Regions from separate parts of the Homo sapiens genome. Here region 2 is linked to region 1. Evidence: fine-mapped expression QTL. A gene starts in region 1. The other region holds a variant in brackets. All regions are shown on one strand. Distances are between the middles of the regions.

Region 1 (5,357 bases):
TCTCAGGCAGGTGGGGCCTCAGAGTGGTCAGACCTGCGCAGCAGCAGACCAGGTTGGCTTTGAGAGTGGGGATCCCCCAGGTGCTCCCAATCTCCTTGTGCAGGTCTAGCCCCCACCCCCTTCCCCTGTTCCTTCCCCCACCTGCATCCCCAAGCCATGCTGCTCCAGTGGCTGTCAGGGACGGGCACGGGGTGGGGGTGGGCTGGAGAGAGGAGCAGGGCAGGCCCCTGTCAGGAGAGGCCCCCGCCCCAGGTGGATGGGAGTCAGCCTGGCCTCCTTTCCCGAGGCTGCAGTGCGGGGGTTTGGTGAGGGCTTCTGGGGCGATAATTGGGCAGCGATTAAGCGTTCCTGGCAGCTGCGGCTGTTGCCTGTCACCGGTCAGCTCAGGCCTGCATTCACAGCCTCTGCAGACCCTGCTGGAGGGGGTTGGGGAGGGGAAGACGGGGCTCCGCGTGGCACCCCCGACGCTGCCTGCCCTCGTGCCATCCAGGGCAGGCACTGTGCTCTCCCACCGGTCTCGGCTTGGCCACTTCTGGCTTGCTGTTTAGCAGGTGACAGGGGTGGTGATGGGCCACGGGGCATTGAGCAGAGGACGCCAGGATTCCTCACCAAGGGCCTGGCTCCTGCCCAGCCCTGCCTTGCTCACCGGGCCACCTTGGGCACTCACCCTTCTCCAGGCCTGGCTCCCTCCACACAGGTGAGGGAACTGAGGCAGCGGCACCACCTATGACCTTGGCTCACGTGTCCCCAGTCCTGCCTCCTTGTCAGCTTGCTGATGCCTTGGGTGGGGGTGGCAGCTGGAGGCCACTGCTGGCCAGAGGCCTAAGAGCTGTGCCCTGGCGGGGACGTCAGAGGCCACACGGGCTTGTAAACCCTGGCGGGGCTGGCCCCTGGTCATTGAAGTGCTGGCTCTCACAATGGACACACATGCACGGTCAGTGCCCAGCACCCAGACAACACCTACAGGCTCAGGCTGGCCCCAACCCGGACATGTGGCCCTCGGTGACCGCTGGCTGCACTCACCCAAGGCTGCTGGCGTCTGCCCGTCCCGCATGTGCCCACCCAGCTCCTCTCCCTGGGATTCCGCAGTGGAGAAGCGGGAAGGTCCCTGTGCTGGAGACTTCTCTGCCTGGCTCCCCCTCCCAGCTCCGCGGTGCCCCTCCGCCCTCCCTTCTCTGTCCGCCCACTTACCTTTAATTAGAAATGCCAGGAGAGCCATTTTTGGGGAGTTTTTTTGCCAGAAAGACATTCCCCCCCAGGGGCGGAAGGAAGGAGGAGACAGACTGGCTCTGAGGCTGGGAGAGGGCTCCCCGGGAGAGCCGGTTGGGGGGGGGCTCAGAGGGTTGGCAGGGAGGGGGGATTCCAGCAAGTGGGCACCTGTGTGCCCTTGAGTGCCTGAATAAGACAGGGGATGCTGGGGGGAGCTGAGGGCTGTGAGTGGGGGGTATGAGTGTGTATGTGGGAGCTATGAGTGGGGGGTATGAGTGTGTATGTGGGAGCTATGAGTGGGGGGTATGAGTGTGTGTGGGGGCTGTGAGTGAGGGCATGAGTGTGTGGGGTGGGGTTAGAGTGGGGGCTATGAGTGTGTATGTGGGGGTGTGAGTGTGCAGCATGTGTGTGTCTGAGAGAGGGAAAGGGCAGCTGGCAGCAGGAACAAGATGTCTTGATTGTCAGCGATGATGTCCTCATGGCCCTCTGGCTGTGGGGAATGGTGTGTGTCACCCCTGCCTGGGTAACATCAGAGGACCTGAGACCCATGCCTATCCAGCCAGCACTGGAGTAACTCAGGAAGGGCGTCCCTACCCCCGCCAGGTTGCCAGGGAGGCAGAAGGGACCTCCCTCCCGAGGGAGTCTCGGCTTCCGGAGCCCCGCTCCTTATATGGTGCTTGGCTTCCCTCTGCCTCTCCTGATGGCACTGTGCTGCCAGCACCGGCCCCCCTCCCTCTCCCTCCTCGCCTCTCCTCCCTCCCCTTCTCCTTTCCCTCCTTCCACCTCCCTCCCTGTCTCCCTCTCTCCTCCCCTCTTCCATCCCCTTAGAAGTCTTGGAGCCTCTGGCCAGGTTCTTGATATAGCCAGGGTCTTCAGGGCCCAATTCCCTTCACTGGGGGCTAAATGTCCCCTCCATGTCCTCCAAACCCCAGCCCCCCAGGTAGCAGCTGCCAGATTTCCCTGGAAACACAGAAAAGTATTGGGCCTCACCAGAGACCTGCGTATGGGGGCATGGGGCAGCCCTGTCCAGTCACTGCCACGTGGGCCCCTGTCACCCATGCACACCAACGCCAGGGCCAGGCAGAGCGAGCCTCTGCCTGGCTGTGCGTCCCTCACACAGAGCCCAAGACCTGGACTCAGGACCCGGGCAGGAGTGAGTGGGAGCTCAAAGCCACATCTGGGAGCTCACATGGAGACTTGCTGAGCCCCTGGGCACAGAGGCTGATGGTGAGGGTCCTTCCCGGGCTCAGCTGCACATCCTGCAGAGCTGGGTGGGCGGGGTCAGGGGCAGTGAGGACCCAGGAGAGCAGTGGCCAGCGCCAGCCCCCTCCAGCCCCGCAAAGAGAGAGGCGAGTGGAGAGGAGGAAGGCCACCTTGGGACCCTGGGAGGCAGCAGATGACAGCCCGCCCAGCGCCCGGGAGGGGGCGTGGGAGGGGCGCCCAGTGCCCGGCTCAGTCCCTCGGTCCCCGCAGGCTGAATGAGCCCCGCCGTCCGGGGTGGGAGGTACGGAGCGGAGGGATTAGTCATCCTGGCCCCGCCATGTGTGCAGGGGGTGGGACCTCCCGTCCCTTGCCGCCCGGGAGCCGAGTGGGCGCAGGGCGGGGCCTGCAGGGGCGCGGGCGGGGCGCTGGCGGGGAGCCTGCGGCTGGGCCAATGAGAAACCGGGCTCGGCGAGCCGGCCGCCCACGGGCCTCGCTGGCTGCATAAAGAGCCGGCGGCCAGGACTCAGCGCAGAGCTCGGGCGCGGCGTCCTCCCTCCGCAGCAGCCGAGCCGGACCTGCCTCCCCGGGCGTGCTCCGCCGGCCCCGCCGCCGGCCCGCAGCGACAGACAGGCGCTCCCCGCAGCTCCGCACGGGACCCAGGCCGCCGGACCCCAGCGCCGGACCACCCTCTGTCCGCCCCGAGGAGTTTGCCGCCTGCCGGAGCACCTGCGCACAGATGGAGCTGGACCACCGGACCAGCGGCGGGCTCCACGCCTACCCCGGGCCGCGGGGCGGGCAGGTGGCCAAGCCCAACGTGATCCTGCAGATCGGGAAGTGCCGGGCCGAGATGCTGGAGCACGTGCGGCGGACGCACCGGCACCTGCTGGCCGAGGTGTCCAAGCAGGTGGAGCGCGAGCTGAAGGGGCTGCACCGGTCGGTCGGGAAGCTGGAGAGCAACCTGGACGGCTACGTGCCCACGAGCGACTCGCAGCGCTGGAAGAAGTCCATCAAGGCCTGCCTGTGCCGCTGCCAGGAGACCATCGCCAACCTGGAGCGCTGGGTCAAGCGCGAGATGCACGTGTGGCGCGAGGTGTTCTACCGCCTGGAGCGCTGGGCCGACCGCCTGGAGTCCACGGGCGGCAAGTACCCGGTGGGCAGCGAGTCAGCCCGCCACACCGTTTCCGTGGGCGTGGGGGGTCCCGAGAGCTACTGCCACGAGGCAGACGGCTACGACTACACCGTCAGCCCCTACGCCATCACCCCGCCCCCAGCCGCTGGCGAGCTGCCCGGGCAGGAGCCCGCCGAGGCCCAGCAGTACCAGCCGTGGGTCCCCGGCGAGGACGGGCAGCCCAGCCCCGGCGTGGACACGCAGATCTTCGAGGACCCTCGAGAGTTCCTGAGCCACCTAGAGGAGTACTTGCGGCAGGTGGGCGGCTCTGAGGAGTACTGGCTGTCCCAGATCCAGAATCACATGAACGGGCCGGCCAAGAAGTGGTGGGAGTTCAAGCAGGGCTCCGTGAAGAACTGGGTGGAGTTCAAGAAGGAGTTCCTGCAGTACAGCGAGGGCACGCTGTCCCGAGAGGCCATCCAGCGCGAGCTGGACCTGCCGCAGAAGCAGGGCGAGCCGCTGGACCAGTTCCTGTGGCGCAAGCGGGACCTGTACCAGACGCTCTACGTGGACGCGGACGAGGAGGAGATCATCCAGTACGTGGTGGGCACCCTGCAGCCCAAGCTCAAGCGTTTCCTGCGCCACCCCCTGCCCAAGACCCTGGAGCAGCTCATCCAGAGGGGCATGGAGGTGCAGGATGACCTGGAGCAGGCGGCCGAGCCGGCCGGCCCCCACCTCCCGGTGGAGGATGAGGCGGAGACCCTCACGCCCGCCCCCAACAGCGAGTCCGTGGCCAGTGACCGGACCCAGCCCGAGTAGAGGGCATCCCGGAGCCCCCAGCCTGCCCACTACATCCAGCCTGTGGCTTTGCCCACCAGGACTTTTGAGCTGGGGCTGACTCCTGCAGGGGAAGCCCTGGTCCAGCTGGGTGCCCCCTCGAGCTCCGGGCGGACTCGCACACACTCGTGTCATCCAGATGTGAGCACCGCACCCAGCGGCAAAGAGCCCTCCCCCCTGCAGGGCTCCACCCATCACCCTCCCTCCGTCTGTCTTTCCGGCCTGGACCCCACCCTCCACACTCTCAGGCCATCACAGAACACCCCAGCTTCCTCATTCTGCTACAACACCCAGGCCCTCTGGACATCCAGAAAACCAAGTGTCCGGATGGCAGGGGCCAGCGGCCACCAAGCTCATGGGACACCCAGAGCAGAAGCTAGGGCAGAGCCAATGCTGAGGGAGCCTCGACTTCCGGCGCCGCCGCCCTCTCCCGGCATCCGCAGAGCCAGCTGACGCCCTCCCTGCCTCCCAGGGCAGCTGGCCAGCCTCGGGCAGCGCGGCCCCCTCCTCCCAGGGGAGAGTAGAAGTCGCACACGCAGCAGAGCAGACCTGATGTCCCGGTGCTTCCTGGCCCCTCAGGTGAGCCCCTGCCCCAAGGCAGTACCGGCTGTGGGGCATCTGAGAGCTGGCGGGATCCGGAGGCTGTTTTCTAGGAGAGCCCACTGAGGCTTGGGCCCCCAGCAAGTTAGCCAAAGGGATGGGGTGGGGCTGGCATCATGGAAGGGGGCATTGGGGAGAGTGGGCCGGGTGGGAGGCAGGGGCAGTTTGCTGAGCCAGCTCTCACATGGACCCGCGCTTTCTCTCCCCCAGCTCCAGTGATTCACGCCCGCCTGGAGAAGAATCAGAGCTCAGCTCATGACTCACCCATGGCAGGCGGAGGGTCCCAGAGGGGCTGAGTCCTCAAATCCGGCTGAGGCAGCAGCTGGCACCATCAGAGCCAGGAGAGTGACAACAGGTAACGGAGCACCACCCTTCCACCCAGACCCCACCATCAGCTGTC
Region 2 (5,357 bases), 31 kb after region 1:
CCTTTGACCCTGCTGCTTTTGCTGCCTGAATTGCCTCCCCTCATGCCTGCCCCGCAACCTGCACCCGGCCAGCTTCTTCCCATTTCCACACGGACGTCCCCCTCTCAGAAGCCATTTCCCCAGTTAGCTCATCTAAGGGCAGGGCCCCATGACCACCTCCAGCCCGTTCCCTCCCTGCCTCACCCCAGCACTCCAGCTCCTCCAAGTGTGGCCCCTCCCGCAGCACCGCATTTTCCTGTGACCGGACTTGTCCAAGTGCTTTTCATATCGACACTCAGTCTTCATCACAACCACGTGCAGCCGACACTGGTTTACAGGTGGGGAAACTGAGGCACCTAGCCATTCAGTCATCTCCCCAGGCCCCACAGCACGCGATGGAGGACGAGGTTGAGGGCGGGGCCTGCGGCAGGCACTGGTTCACAGTCACACGCAAGGCTTGGCCACCTCGGGCTCGGGAAGGTGCTGCTGTGGAGACGGGTGCAGGAGGGGCCCCCAGTCCTGAGAGCTCAGCTTCCCCGATCCTCACCACCCAGCCCCCGCCTCCCCCCAGCGAGGCTCCTATCCCACGCAGCTCCGGGGCATTTGGGGACCCAGAACCAGGAAGAAAGGAGGTGGGAGGGAGACAGCAGGTGGTGTGTGGGGTGGGGTTGGAGGAGAACTTCCAGGGAGTCAGAGATAGACACAGGAGCAGCCGCGGCCTGGGTGGGCAGGGACGGGAGGCGCAGTGGGTTTTTAGGACGTGCCCCCACGTGCCCCTTGCAGAAACCTGAGAAATGCAAGGGAAGGACCTGGAGTTTGATGGCGCCGCTGCGACCCCTCACGCTGTCTCCCAGCGGGGGCCACGCAGAGGCCACCGTGACTGCTGAGGGGAAGGGCGTCCTGTGGAGTCCAGCGGAAGGAAGGGAGGCTCCCACCTGCACAGCCCCTCGGCCCTGTCAGCCTCCTCTCCTGACTGCACTGCTGTGAAGCCTCCATTCAGTCCTAAGACAAAACCTTAGCTCCTGAGCCCTGCGTTTCTAAAGGGCTCTGCAAACCGGCACCGACTCGCTGCTCCACTGCAGAAGCCACGTGGGTCCCCCAGGCCGGGCCACCGCGCCCAGCGCTCCTGCCCCCGGAATGGCTGCACTCGTCCCACTCCGGGCCTTTGAATGTCGTTCTCTCTGCTGCAAGACTTTTCCTTCCTCACCACTTAGCAAACTCCTGTCTGTGCCTTCAGCTCCAACCCAGAGCCCCTTCCTCTGGGAGGCCTGCCCAGATTTTCTCCACTGACCTTTTTGGATGGCTCTCCCTTTACAAGCCTGTCTCCTCTCCTGGGCTTCGAGCCCTCAGGGGTGAAGATGACCTTGGTTACATCTTTTTCTCCCTTTCCCAAGCCAATGTAGGACAGAACATTCTGGGCACTCAATTATTCTATGCAGGATGCATGAGTCGGCGGGTGACAGGCCTGCTCTGGGAGCCGTGGGCTGCAGCAGGGCTCAGCCGAGATGGGGGAGGAGACTGTGCATGCCCACCCTGTGTCCCACCCAGATGGGGCCCTTCCCCACCCACAAGCGCCACGCTGCCTCTGCCACCCCGTGCCCCAGGTCCACGGTCCCCCATCCCCTCTGTGGACTTCAGGCGGCATGGTGGGGGGCACCGTCCATGGGTGAAAGGCACAGACCAGCCACCGCAGGTCCTGCACGGGCTCCGCAGAGCAGCCACTCTCCAGGCTCGGTGTCCCCTTTGTGAAGTAAGCTGTCACCAGTCAGGGCCCTGTCCCTCGCCGAGGGGCGCCCCAGGGGAGGCGTGGCTGTGCTCAGCCTCGTCTTGTGGAGTCTGGATCTCCACGTACTCCACGCCCGGCTTTCCAGTCCATGCTAGTAGTGACCAGTGCACACTGAGGAACTCAGACCAAGTTCTGGGGACCCTGTGGGAGTCCTTTCTCAGACACCAGTGGGGTGGCGGGGGGAGGGTGGGTATAGACCCCTGTCCCTGACTCCAGCCCTTCTCCTGGCCTCCCAGCCTCCAGTCTGTCTCTGCCCTGTCTCTCACCCCATGACAGAGCTTATCCCTGGGCTTGGGACCTCCCCTGGACTCTACTCCAGGGCCCTGCCGCTCCTCCCCTCACTCCAACTCACTCACAGGTGCCTTGACCTCAGCCCGGCCAAAGCGGAGCTTGCCCCCGACCCCCAGCCTGCTTTTCCTGAGGTGCTCACCCCGTAAGGCCTCGGGGTCCCCAGGGCAGCAGCTCCTCCCGCCCACCGCCCCAGAGTCCTGACTTTGCTGCTCCCAGCTCCCGTTTCTCCACAAAACCTCCCCTAGGCCTTGGCCGTGGCTCCTGTCAATGACGCCACCCCCACTCCACGCCCATGGCACCCCCAGCTACTCCTCCCTGCCCCTCTCGAAGTATTTCCCGGAGAGAACCTGACTCTCACCCATGCTCTGCCCCACCTCTGGCAGACCCCTTGGTCCCTGTGCCTGGCCGGCTGCACCCAGGTCCCTGAGAAGCTGTGTGCCGCTGAGCTCTGCTTCTCTAAGAATGGCCCTGTAAACCCTGGTTAGACCAATGGCTGCCCGCCTAAGCCTGGCCCTGTCACCTCTGTCCCTGGGTCCCCCTGGGCCAATTCCAGCCTCTCTTCTAGAGGGTCCCCTGCTGTCTGCAGGGTTTGTGGGGACTAGGAAACTCATGTTTCCCTAGGGAGCCCGGGGGCCTGGGTCAGGGTCTCTGTCCCTCCCCCACTTCTGCCTCATCCCACCCTCACCCCAAATTCCCTCCGGAGGTCTGGGGAAGGAGTGAGCCCAGGGGTCCTGTCAGGGAGCAGGGGGCAGCAGGCCTGCTCCTGGGTCTCCCTACAGTCCCCAAAGCCAGGCTGTCCAGCAGGGAGGGTGCTTGGGGCCCAAGTTGCTGAAGGAGGCCACCTGTGGTCATCCCCCCTGGCCGCCCAGCGAGCCACACACAGGAGCCTTGTCTCTAGGCCTGGCC[A/G]CCACCCCTCCAGCTCTGTGCCAAAACCACTTTCCACGGCTGGAGACGGGGTCCCAGACCAAGGCCTCAGCCCAGTGGCCCAGGTCCCAGGCCCCCAGTTCTCTTCAGAGCCCTGGGCCTATCTCTCCAGGGGCAGCTGTTGGCATGGGGGGAGAAACCCTGGGGACCACACCCTCTACACACCCCTCCACAGCCACCTGGAGCCTGGAGCCGCGTCTCCACTCCCTTCTGTCCCCCAGCCTCACACACGCCCCTGAGAAAGGCTATGGCTGTGGCTCAGGGAGCTCCCCACTGCAGCAGTTATGAAGCTGGGATATTCTCTTAGGAACTTTCCCAGCTCCCCAGGGTTGGTGGTGATGACAAGCGTCTCTCAGAGGACAGCTCTTTAAAAAATTAAAAACAAAACAAAACAAAACTCTATTACTGGACAGAGTTTCCTCAGGGATGTTATCTCTTAAGAGTCTCCTAAAGAAGACTCAGGGTGACCCCATAGTGGAGCTGGCTGTGTCCTAGGCGGGGGTCATTCCCGAGGCCTCCAGCAGGACTGAGGGGCCACGTCCTTCTCCAGCCTGCCCAGGACCGAGGCTGCTGTCACCAGCGTGTCCCATTGTGGGGAGTGGGAGAAGGCTTTACTGCTAAGTTTCCTGACATGGCAGTGGGTTTAGCCACGCCCTAGCTGTCTCTGCTGGGGGCTTGTAATCCCAGGAAAGCCCCTCTGAAGATGCCTGGGCCGTCAGTCATGAGCCCGAGGGCAGCCGCATCCCCCGCCTCTGGACTGGTTCCATTCTTCAGGTCAATCCTGGACCGCAATCTCAGGCAGTGGGGCTGACTCATGGACTCGAGGGAGGACACGCACGATCCCAAATGACAGTGAGCCCAAACCCATAGCATGAGCTAAGGCGACCACCCCATCCGTGGTGTTCTTGGAGCCCTCCAGCCTCTTCCTGGGGATGGTTAGGGGCTGGTGAGGGTTTCTAGGAAGGGAAGCCCCTCCCCAGAGCCCTGGTCAGTGGCCCCTCCTAGGGGACCCTTCCTCAGGCCAACTGTGGGCTCCACTGTCTCAGGGCCCCTGCCTGGGTCAGGGTACTGCGGCTTCCTGTTTCCAGAGCTTCCTCCTTCTCAGCCTCAGGGCCACGTGTGCTCAGGAATTCCCTCAGCTGCCTGCAGAGTCAGTTGAGGCCAGAATCCTTTGGGTGAAGTTCCCCTCAACCTCCAGACTGTTGAGAACTGGTCCCTTGTAAGCCCTTGGCTGCTGGACAGGCTTTCTCGGGAAGCAATCTTGCTGACTCTGCAGACAGTGGCTCGCTGGGTCTGGGGTGGATACCTGTGGGAAGGTATCACCCCCAACCCTGCACGGTGGCAGTTGCTGGGCTCACCTGTGGGGGCTGCTGGGTAGCCTGGTCCAGTTCTAAGATCCCTCAGGGCACCTGGAAGTCTGTCCCCTGCAGCTGAGAACCAAACCTCACCTCGGGAATCCCTTCCCAACACCTCCGCAGCAGCCGCTGTGCAGAAGAGGCCTCTGGGGGCTCAGTGGTACACACGCACCCTGAGAATGCCTCCCTTTCTGCTGCCATCAAGGGAGAGTAACGCGGTCGAGGCGCTCCCCTGCCTGCCGCCTGGTCCCTTCTCCTTGGTCGGATGACGTCTAGGAGCCTAGCAAGCAATTTCTGTTTTGGGGTGGATGGGCAGACGGGGCGGTCACCCACGGACGGGCAGACGGGGCGGTCACCCACGGACGGGCAGACGGGGCGGTCACTCACGGACGGGCAGACGGGGCGGTCACCCACGGCTGGGGCTGATCAGTCTCCCTAGCAAAGCTTCTGCTGTTTGCGGGTGGACGGGCAGACGGGGCAGTCACTCACGGCCGGGGCTGATCAGTCTCCCTAGCAAAGCTTCTGGGACAAGCGGGGAGACCCAGGATGACTGTGAGCTCAGGGGCCAGCCTCTTGGCACCTCCAGCTCCATCCCATGGCTGGGCCCAGCCTAGTTTAAATTCCCCTCGGTTGGGACAGCCACGCTCTGGAGCTTCCTCCCAGAAAACTCAGCAAGTTTGCCCCAGGCTGAGAGAGGAGAGGGCCTGGTGTCCTGCTCCCAGCAGCCGCCTCTCCCCGCACTCATGAGGCCCCTCCTTGGCTGGGCAGCGCCCCCACCCTCTCCCACCCTCTCCTGGAAGACCTGACCCCTCCCATCTTCTCCTCAGACTCCAGGGCCACCAGGGTCTCAGACCTCTGACCCCAGGGCAGGGCGGAACCTGTGCTGGCTGCCCCTCGGCTTCTTCTCCGGCTGGCCCTCCCTAACCCAAAGGGAGTATTTGCTGGTTTGTCCTTTCCTTGCCTTAAAAAAAAAAACATCAGTTTTGGCTTTAAATAAGTATTTTCTTCTCTGAGAAGGGTAA

What was found. PIP is the estimated chance that this variant, and not a neighbour inherited with it, causes the effect.
Region 2: its variant is the best candidate, but not a certain one, in a credible set for the expression of ARC in whole blood (TOPMed, PIP 0.51).

What each region holds. Positions count from the first base shown.
Region 1 is chr8:142,612,063-142,617,419 of GRCh38, reverse strand. ARC (activity regulated cytoskeleton associated protein) reads left to right here and starts at 2,941. Exons shown (of 3, transcript NM_015193.5): 1 at 2,941-4,936; 2 at 5,168-5,312. The coding sequence starts at 3,149. The coding sequence ends at 4,339. RefSeq lists a silencer at 2,625-2,834 and an enhancer at 2,850-3,748.
Region 2 is chr8:142,580,887-142,586,243 of GRCh38, reverse strand. No RefSeq gene overlaps it. Among named protein-coding and RNA genes, the nearest start is that of ARC, 31 kb to the left of the region's middle. RefSeq lists an enhancer at 1-445. The variant A/G (reference allele first, on the strand shown) is at 2,963.